2 separate regions of the Homo sapiens genome follow, and region 1 is linked to region 2. Evidence: fine-mapped expression QTL. A gene starts in region 2. The other region holds a variant in brackets. All regions are shown on one strand. Distances are between the middles of the regions. Region 1 overlaps DYNC2LI1 (dynein cytoplasmic 2 light intermediate chain 1). Region 2 holds the start of DYNC2LI1 (dynein cytoplasmic 2 light intermediate chain 1).

The links. PIP is the estimated chance that this variant, and not a neighbour inherited with it, causes the effect.
Region 1: its variant is the best candidate, but not a certain one, in a credible set for the expression of DYNC2LI1 in tibial nerve (GTEx, PIP 0.51).

The regions. Positions count from the first base shown.
Region 1 is chr2:43,805,941-43,811,326 of GRCh38, reverse strand. It overlaps DYNC2LI1 (dynein cytoplasmic 2 light intermediate chain 1), which reads right to left. Exons shown (of 13, transcript NM_016008.4): 13 at 1,317-1,622. The coding sequence ends at 1,560. It also overlaps a transcript of ABCG5 not described here. Among named protein-coding and RNA genes, the nearest start is that of ABCG5, 30 kb to the left of the region's middle. The variant C/G (reference allele first, on the strand shown) is at 2,963.
Region 2 is chr2:43,771,514-43,776,899 of GRCh38, reverse strand. It overlaps DYNC2LI1 (dynein cytoplasmic 2 light intermediate chain 1), which reads right to left and starts at 2,861. Exons shown (of 13, transcript NM_016008.4): 1 at 2,754-2,861; 2 at 1-118. The coding sequence starts at 2,761. It overlaps LOC105374571 (a long non-coding RNA gene), which reads right to left and starts at 2,747. Exons shown (of 2, transcript XR_940033.2): 1 at 2,354-2,747; 2 at 1,908-2,027. It also overlaps the pseudogene RN7SKP66. RefSeq lists an enhancer at 2,926-2,975.

The sequences.
Region 1 (5,386 bases), 34 kb before region 2:
CATTGGTAAATTATCAGACTAGTATTGTCAATTTTTATAAAAGGTCTTTGACATGGATGATTATGGTGTAATAGTTACACAATGTCTTACAGATTATATATGTCACATCAGTTATAGACAATTCTGGAGATGATAATCTATTAAAGTAGTTCAAAGAGAGTCCCACAGGAACCTCTTTTGAAATCACTGATTTCAACTTACTAAAGATATGGGTGTACAACATAAGTGGAAACATTTTCTACTATTCATATGCAGATGAATTTCATTCTAGCTCAGAAACATTTGGAAAACTGACATCACACGTGACTTCAAGCTATTAAATGTTAGTGATAGCACCTTAGAAAAACACAATGGCTTTCAACATGTGACAGTTTGTGTCTCAAGTCAAAAATGGACAGTGATGTGTAAGAAAATCAAATTACATAATAACAATTCCTATTACTCTTGTGGAATAGGCTGTTTCTTCCCACCAAGTCAGTGATGTTTCTGAGATCATAATGTTCACTGTAAATTTAAAGGGATTTCTTTTTCCATAGCACTCAGCAAGAAACGTGTGCTAAAGACTGAGGTTCCTTGGAAACATGCTGAAAATTCTGTTCTCAAGGGTGTCAGAACCATACGTACTGCAAATAATTTATGAAGTCCTAGTTCATTGCAATAAGCAGATGGCTTGCTATCTGCTCAGACAGTACTCCCTTGGGGTAGTAAATGTGCTTATCTGAAGCTGGGAGTCAATATATTTTGTATGTGGACATGGAAGAACATAGAATAAATCATTTTTAATCATAGCAATTATACTTACTCAAAATGAACTTGGCTAGCAGGTACACACATCTACAGATTGGAATGGCTTCTTAAAGGCTATCCCACCTTGGAAATAATCCTGGTTATCCGCAACACATGATGTTTTGTCCTGCTTCTTGATAGGATATCTCCTTAGATGTGCCTGTTCTTCAAAAAGTGGTATTTAAAATAAATGTGTCAGTCTCACAGCAGGGTGAAATTGGTGCTGATTAAAAATGCCCCATTCCAGACCACTGATGGCGACACTCTAGGTGTGGGGACCTGGGAATGTGCATCTCCTATTTCAGGTGCTTCTTGCGCCTCACTGTTAAGAGTAAAATTTTGACATCTGTGAACCCAATTCCGGTTTCCTCCCAGCTACAGCTGAGAATGCCTTTTAGAAAGAATGTGTCTAACGTGGGCACTTAACCTTGCATTTAAAACTGTAACCAAATACTCTTACTTTTATATTCCTAAAAACATATAAGCAGAAACTTATACATGCTGAATTGAGTATATACCACTTAAACATGTTAGAGGTAGGTAGTAGAAGATTCTTTTATTTTAAAAAAAATTACACGTGGTTCTACAATAATTTTTCCTTTTAAAAAGCTTCAAGATATACAGGGAGATGCACTAGTCCAAGAAATCCAGCTTGTCCTTTAACAAATTATACAGTTTAACTTTCTTCACATATTGCCACAATAGTTAATTCACAGTATAATCTTATTTGTATTTGGAAAAGAAGAAATAAATATACAATAATTGAAATAGGTTCAAGAATCAAGCTCGATTTGTTTCCAAGACTTGGAAGAACTTCTTTTGTACTGTTCCAGTTCCTAAAACAAAAATATGTATCACTTTAAGAAAAATCAACTTTACTAATTCAAGGAGGCACCTTAAAACTGCCTTCTCATTTTTTAGATATATCAATGAATCCTTAGTAGCATTATCATTCTAAATATTTCTTGCCAATTATTTTGTAAATGATTATGCTTAGGACTTATTTTCTAGAAATACTGTCTTCAGAGTTTCTGTGTGGCTAAGCAGCACTCAGAGATGAATTTATTAAACTTTCAGACAAAATTATGTACATAAACTACATAATACATATGAATTGTCTTTCAACTAATGAACTAGACATCTGTCATCCTTCAAGTATTCAAAAGTGATCTTATTTTAATTGTTTGCTGTTCAGCTCTAATCAAAAACTTGGTTGAAGTTAGCAAAATATTTAAAAAATACATACCCAGGCTGGGTGCGGTGGCTCATTCCTATAGTCCCAGCACTTTGGGAGGCTGGGGCAGGAGAATTGCTTGAGCCCAGGAATTTGAGACCAGCCTGGGCAACATAGGGAGACCGTGTCTCTACAAAAACTGAGAAAAATAATTATCCAGGCATGGTGGTGTGCGCTGTGGTCCCAGCTACTTGGGAGTCTGAGGTGGGAGGATCGCTTGAACCTGGGAGGCCAAGGCTGCAGTAAACTGTGATTGCGCCACTGCACTCCAGCCTGGGTGACAGAGTGAGATCCTGTCACAAAAAAGTGTGTGTGTGTGTGTGTGTGTGTGTGTGTGTGTGTATCCTTTGTCCCAGTGATTTTACTTTTAGAAATTTATCATCCATAACAATAGAGCAATGCACAAGGATGTAAAAGAAGGAAACCCATTGCTCTGTCTCAGCACAACTGGAAACAACTTTGATGTCCCCCAGTAAGGACTGATTAAATAATTAGCGTTCATTCACAGGTGGCTTCCAAGGCAGCCAGCAAAAATAACAGTGGCCACATGAAAACATAATGTGTGCCACATGAAAAAAGCACACAGATAGGGAGAGGGCAGGATACTTCCATTTTCTATTTTATATACATCTATCTATAGCTCTTGAATTTTTTCACAAGGAGTATATCTTACCTTTACAATTCATAAATAAATTTTAGTGGAGGTGGCTATCCTGCACAAGGCAACTGACATGTAAAAGGGACCATCTAAGGGGATGCCTCTTGGCCTCCTACATGTTGTTCAATGTCTAAATAACTGTACAAAGGTTGTCACTACTTCAAATAAAACGTGGTTACTCTGCAAGATGAGGCAATCAATGCCCTTTGGCTAACATAACTGAAGTTCACAGTTGCTATGAAAAGAAAATCCATTCTAATTTTCAGAAAAATTGCAGAGCGTAC[C/G]TTTCATACCTATACCCTAAGTTACTAAAATTTAAATGTTAAATGTTTCAAAATGGTATATAGACTTAGGAAGAATTTTTCCTTGTGTGTTTTTTTTTTTCCTTTAACTTCCTCATTGGATTCTAGGAAGAATTTTCATGGTAATAATCATATGTAGTCTTTACAGCTTGTTTTATTTTTTTCTAATAAAGCTAATTCAGTTCACCAGTTATCTACCACTTGCGGTTTTAAAGATTAACTCATAAAGAATAAACAAATTGTTTACTGCAAACTTTGTCTTTAACTGGAAGTTAAATTATTTTTACCAATGACAAAGGTGAAAATGTTGTTTTGAGATTCTTTGCTGGTAGTATCTCCCTTTTGCAGACAGCAGACTGTGAGAAAACTAGGGCTATCACACAGGCCATGCCAGAGGGAGAAAAAGGAATAACCAATATGAGACAAAAACCACCAAGTCCACTAGATCTTCAACATGACAATGATACGGCCTCAAAATAATGCATTGATGTTTTAAAGGGATAGCAAGTAAAGTTTTCCGAAGATAACTGTGGTTGGCCAAGAAGACCTTAAAAATAAATGTTAACTGTAACCTTTTTTTTTTTTTTTTTTTTTTTTTTTTTTGCTTTAACAAAAATAATAGAAAAGAAGCTGGGCACAGTGGCTCATGCCTGTAATCCCAGCACTTTGGGAGGCCAACTCAGGAGGATTGCTTTAGGCGAGGAGTTGAAGACCAGCCTGGGCAACAAAAAACAAAAAAATTACCCGGGCATGGTGATGTGTGCCTGTAGTCCCAGCTACTTGAGAGGCTGAGATGGGAGGATCCCTTGAGCCCTGGAGTTCAAGGTTGCAGTGAGCCATGATCTCCCCATTGCACTCCAGCCTGGATGCCAGAGCAAGACACAGTATCAAAGAAAAAGAAAAAAACACAAAAGAGGTAGAAGGGCTCAGCAAGTGCTTTCCACATTCGCATTCCCTTAAAATCGGGAATGCTCTAAAGCTAGAGGACTTTTAAAAAACAGAAAATACTACTTAAGTATTTTCTGGTGCCCATGTGAAGTCTGGCAAAAGACAGAACTTTAAATAATTAAAGAGGGCTAATCACGAAAGACCCTAAGTCTGCAGGAAAGATGAAAGGGGTCTTCCTACCAATCCTCAGATCCTTGAGGACTGACTTCACAGCACACAATTGGAAACAACTTAAGGTCTCACAACTACTCATGAAATAGTATGAAATAATATTCAAATTAAAAATTTTATATAGTAGAATGTCAAAATTTAGATTCGGATTATCAATGAAATAACAGCAACAACACTGGTAATTGTTAGGGTATCTTTACAGCTAAAGCATAAAATTATGTTAAGGTCCTGTGTGTGCAATCTGGAATCAATTCGTCTAAAACCACACAAATAAAAGTGGTTTAGAGGCAAACTTAGGACAGCATAACTTTTCAGGTAGGTTAAAAAAAAATCTCGAACCAAGAGATGACAGGAATTGGTGATCTGCTGGCAGTGAGATACAAGAGATGAATGAAGGGTGATATGGGTACTGTGGGGCTGCCTTCCTTTTCCACACAAAATTCTTATGGTTTTAAGTCATTTAGAGAAGACAGATTTGAATGTGAAAACTCATGATGCTCACAAATACCCTAATCCTTTAATAATACTGATGTATATGAACTTAATAAAAGTGATCATTATACAATATAAACAGATATTCTTATCAACAACAACAGTTAATCATTGACTCCTAGATAAATATTAATCAGGGATGACTTCCAACTAATCCTTATAGCCAGGCTGCAAACATAATAAGGGTTACATAAGGTCATTTTCCTGTTTCTACAACATGCCTCTCACTTTGCTACAGCTATAAAACCTCTAAATATTCATGGCATATTTTTCAAAAGTCTTCTGGACCGTTTACATAAAATGTTTTGCTTACTTCTCCAACAGCCCCCGAAGGTGAATACTGAGAAAAAAACCCTGGCTCCTACTCCCAGCTGACAGCTGTTTTCAGGTTACCCTCGCAACAACGTGACTGCCACCTGAGAAGTTGCTGGGGCTTTCGATCTAGTGCTTAGCATATATAAGTTTACTCATATAAGGACAGATTCTGTACAACGTCTCATTTTATCAAATAAAACTAAAATCTAAGTTTGCTTGTTTGTTTTTAGAAAAATCTAGGCCAGGCGCACTGGCTCATGCCTGTAATCCCAGCACTTTGGGAGGCCAAGGCGGATGGATCACGAGGTCAGGAGTTCAAGACCAGCCTGGCCAAGATGGTGAAACCCCGTTTCTACTAAAAAAGCAAAAAAAATTAGCCAGGTGTGGTGGCAGGCACCTGTAATCCCAGCCACTCAGGAGGCTGAAGCAGAGAATTGCTTGAACCCGGGAGGCGGAGGTTGTAGTGAGCCGAGGTCATGC
Region 2 (5,386 bases):
CCCATTTTTACTGCCAATGAAGAAAACAAATTTTTCTGCAATTTCAGCTCCATCACCTTCACTTCCATTAATTCCCCTTTTTTCCACTTCAGCTTTTGCAATTTCCCAGAGAGTTTCACTACATGAGAGGCAGAAAAAACAAAATTGAGGGAAAAAGAATTCTTTCAAATATTTATTTCAAGCTCAGAGAAATTTTATTTCAGTATAATTTATGAAACAAATGAACATTATTTTCTGAGGAACAATAATCTGGTAAAACATCTGAGGATTAGTCATTCTATGATTTTATTTTTCTTTTGTTGCTTTGAACTAGTTCTCTGAAGAATACTGAAATTGATAAGCAGAGCCTTTATTGCCAGGATTTGAGGCTGTCACATTTGGGTCTTCCCCTACGGTTCATAGCTGTGTATGTCAGCTTCTCAGACACATATGGAGGTACAATGACTTTGGGAATGTACAACTTGAAAACCACAAACATTTAAGTCACCTAGGAAGATGGGAAAAGTACAAAACCAGTGTATCAAATAATCTTTCCTCCCTGAAACATTTCTTTTTTGTGTTTTAGATTATGTTTTTAGGTAAAAAAAAATTTTGTTTAATATAAAAGTATATGGGAGGCTGAGGCAGGAGGATCACTTGAGATCAGCCTAGGCAATACAGGAAGATCCCATCTCTACTACTGCTACTACTACTACTACTACTAATAAATTAGCATGGGGGAGGGATAGCATTAGGAGAAATACCTAATGTAAATGATGAATTAATGGGTGCAGCAAACCAACATGGCACATGTATACATATGTAACAAACCTGCACGTTGTGCACATGTATCCTAGAACTTAAAGTATAAAAAAAGAAGAAGAAGAAAAGAAAACAAACAAAAAAAATTGGCTGAGGCTGGGAGTGGTGGTTCACACCTGTAATCCCAGCACTTTAGGAGGCCAAGGTGGGTGGATCACTTGAGGTCAGGAGTTCAAGACCAGCCTGGCCAACATGGTAAAACCCCATCTCTACTAAAAAAAAAAAAAAAAAAAAAAAAAAAAAATTGGCCAGGTGTGGTGGCGGGTGTCTGTAACTCCAGCTACTCAGGAGGCTGAGGCATGAGAATCACCTGAACTCAGGAGGTGGATGTTGTATTGAGCCAAGATCGTGCCACTGCACTCCAGCCTGGGCAACAGAGCGAGACTCTGTCTAAAAAAAAAAAAAAGAAAATAAAAAAAGAAAAAGAAAAGAAATTAGCTGGGTGTGGTGACATGCACTCGTGGTCCCAGCTACTAGGGAGGCTGAGGCAGGAGGATTGCCTGAGCCCTGGAGGTCGAGGCTGCAGTAAGCATGTTGACATCACTGCACTCCAGCCTGGGTGACACAGCAAGACCTTGTCTCCCCCCGCCAAAAAAAAACCATAAAGAAAGAAAGAAAAAAAAACCCTAAAACCACAAACATTTTGAAAACAATCCTTTCATTGATTTCTTTACACAGATATATAACTTTACACGATAAAATCATATATATATTAATTAAAGCCTAAGTGAAAATGGAATATTAAACTAAAAACTAACCATGGGCAAGACCTGATAGGTCCTAGCCTGATTCTGCTACTTCCTATGTATGTGAACTTGGGAAAACTACCTAACCTCTTTAAATCCTTCATTCCTTTATTAATTAAACAAATATTTATTGAGCACCTAATATATGCAATCCTCTGTGCTATTCCCCAGGCTCAATTGTTTCTCTATCTCTAAAAAGCCAATAAAAAAGAGTATCAGCTTTATAGGATTGTCATAATTGTTAAAATATATATGTAGTTTAGGGCATGGCCTATACAATTACAAAAATTATTGAGGGCTTGTAATTATACTATTCAAGAACCAGGAATAAGAAAAAGGGTCAAAACAGGAGTCCTTAAATGTTTGCACTAAAATTCATGCATTTATTTCACAGGTGAGCCTTCAGAACTCAGTTTCGGGCTGTTTGCTCTTCATTTACACAACATTCTTTCAAAATATGAGGATCTGCTTTCCAAATACCTAGCAGAGAGGAAAGACGGAGGTGCTGCAGTCAGCCACGACACCTGCGGAAATCGGGAAGTATAACCATAGCTTTATAACTAACCAATTATCCCTTGATGGAAAGCTGACAATTCTCCACACTATCCCAAGGAGAGAAAAAGATTTATCCTGCTCTGTGATGCACTCCCTGACCCCTCTCCCCGACGTGCTTAAGCATAAATTGTTGAGAAAAGGTTTAGGAATATCTTGTGAACAGGTAATTAAAATGAATATCATAGAATTGAACAGCTAGAATATAGTTTACAAACCCTCTCCCGTTTCCCCCCTTAAAAGTGATGTTATACTTTCCACAGTGCCTTCCAAGTTTCCCCTCGCTTATTACTGCGAACCCCCGCACCAGGAGGGGAGGCCCCTGGGGAGAGGAGGCTTTGTGGTCTAGCTCATCGCCGAATGTCCTGCTCCGGAAGTAGTCTCTGGCCTGCAAGAAACTTTTATTCAATCATTGAATGGGTGGAGTTGCTGATCTTTCCAAATCTCTCACTTTTCTACCTAGGGAACTTTCTTTTCTTTCCTGTTTGCGGCAGAATCTTTATGCTCAAGGCTGATTCCTAGGTCCCCGACCCTGCATATCCTGGTGGCAAGTAGCCACCCCCACAATCTTCCAACAGCTGGTCCCGCCTGGGCTTCCTCTCTCCAGGAATACTCTCAGTAGCCTTTCCCACGCAAGCCGGGTTCAGGGAATACCTGGGCATCGTCGACGGCCTGGCTGCCGCAAACGTCACAGGCTCGGAGTAGTGACCAGCCTAGAATCAGGCGGCGAGCTCCGCAAGGAGTCTGGGAGTGAGGCCTTCTGGGTTGCCATGGGAGCGACGTCGCGGCCGCGGTTGCGTGGGGAGACGGGCATCATGGGAAATGTAGTTTTCAGGAGTCCTTTTACATCTCATTCTCGGCCTCAAGCCTTAGGATTGCTTTTAGATCCCAAGTTAGTAACTCCTTGTTACCTCCTAGAACGAGATGATAAGGGGTTACAAACCTGGGATCTAAAAGCAATTTTCTTTTATTTTAAAATTTTTTTACTGGGTGTCAACTATATGCCAAGGGTCTCTGCTCTCTCTCTCTCTCATCTTTCACTTTTTTCTTCCCAATCGCCATGATTTAGGAATAGAGGGTGTAACAATCTCTTGAGCTGTTTTCTGCTAATTTACTAGAAGCAAGGAATATTCGGACTTTAAAATTTAAAATAAGGCACGTAATTTTAATATTTTCCAACTTTCTAGATGTTTAGTTGTTTCAAGTTTTATTCAATAGCACATTGTGTATTTATTAATAAATTAATGAAGCAAGTGCATCTCCTACATACTTCATTTACTTTGTGAATGTAGATTATTTTCTTTTGGAACTTTGTGGTCTCTTTATAGATCTGCAGGAGTGTCCAAATAAATAACGAGCATTGAAATAAATAACAATCATTGAATATGCAAGGCCCTATGCTACACAGAATAAGGAATAAAGAGATGAGTAAGAAAAGATCGCTGCCCTTAAGAAAGACACACACTCAGCTAATTATAAGCACCTAAGGAAGTGAGTGATCTAAACTATTGTATAGAGGTACAAAAATTGCATGAGGGCAAGTGACCAATTATGCCTGAAGGAGATGGTGAAACCATGGCACTGATAGTATTTGGTCTGTATTGAATGCTGAGTAGACTCAGGCTTTCTAGCCTAAGATGCCCTGAATATTTGAAGGAGATACCCTCCCTCCAGTCCTCTACTATTCGGCTTGATTTCTATGGTGCGATGTTCAAGTACATGGGCTTTGGCGTGAGATGGACCTAGGTTCAAGTTCTGACTTGGCCACGCTGGCTAAGTTGTCACATTGCCACATCGGGTAAATCACTGAATTTCTGATCCTGTAAAGCGGGAAAGATTGTGAATCTTAAATGAGATAAATGTAGGTAAAACATAACTTACGTGGGTGTCTGACACATTATAACTGCTTAATGCTTGTTATTATTGTGTGATAAGCTGCTGGTCAGCAACTTCGAACAAAGAAACACAAGGAACACATTCCTGGAAACAAGGCTGATGGTTGATAAAAGGGTGTTTATTTCAAATAAAGTCATTGGGAACAAAATCCTCCCAACACCTAGGTATATTTTGGAGACGTAAAGAACACTAAGCTGCACATAGGAAGGGAATTAATGGGAGTAGAGCTCACCGAAGAAAGGATGATTTTTCAAAGGAGGCTTATACATCTGTCATTGAATCAACAGCTATAGCCTGGTGCTAAGCCAGACTTTAAGCTCACAAACTGATATGGGACAGATTGTAATGAATTGTAATGATTTGGGTTCTAGAACTTCAGAATACTTTTGCATGCTAGTTAGGAAGGCCTGTTGATATTGATAGCAATAACGACAGCTAACATTTTTGCCAAGTGCTTGCTATGTACTGGGCACAATACTCAGTACGAGTACTTCAAAAGTACACTTGTTTGAATAACGGGGAGAGGTGTTTGAAGGAGGGAGCTTGGTAACCAGGAAAGTGAAGGTGATCCGGCTGGGCCCTGATCAGCAGCATTGATTCAGGGTTGATTCAGTTGATCTGACTGAGCAGGTGAGTTCCCCTTTCTTCCCTCATTCCTCTTGAGGCCTTCATACTTGGGCAAAGAAAGTGACTTTCCTGGGTAGATGAAGATTGTTCTTAAGGTAAGAATGGAAGGAGAAGGAGACAATTTTATGCTGCTTTCTGGATGGAATGAGCAACAGTGCAGAAGGGTAAAGGCGTGTGCAGGATGTATTTGGGAAACTGAATAGTTTGGGTTGCGATCATATAAAGTGCCTGGTGGAGCTACAGTGGAAGAGCAAACTGGGCAGGTAGATGGGGCTACTGTGAAGGATGCTGTAGTCTAGACTTTACTGTGTTGGTTATGAGAAACCAAATAGGGTTTAAAAATAGGAGTGTGCCATGATTAGACATGAATTTCAGTGAGATAATTTTTTGCAGTTGTGTGAAGGGTGGTTTGGCATCTAGAAGACCATGCGGAGGCTATTAACAATAGCTAGGAAAGTGACAGGCAGAGTTTTAAAATTTTTTCCCTTGTTTTCAAAGTTATATAAGCTAATTGTAGGGGAAAAAACGTATGCACAGAAAATTAAGAGGGTAAAATAAGCATAAGCCAGAAGTAGTAACTATTAGGTATTTTGGAAATACATTTGATATGTTTCATTCTAATCTTTTTTCTTACAAAGTTGAGATTAATTGTAAAGTTAATTAATGTCCTGATTTTAACATGTATTTCCCCATATCAAATTTTAAAAATGCACCATATCAAATTTTAAAACTGCATCATAAACATAACTTTGATGGTTGCAGAA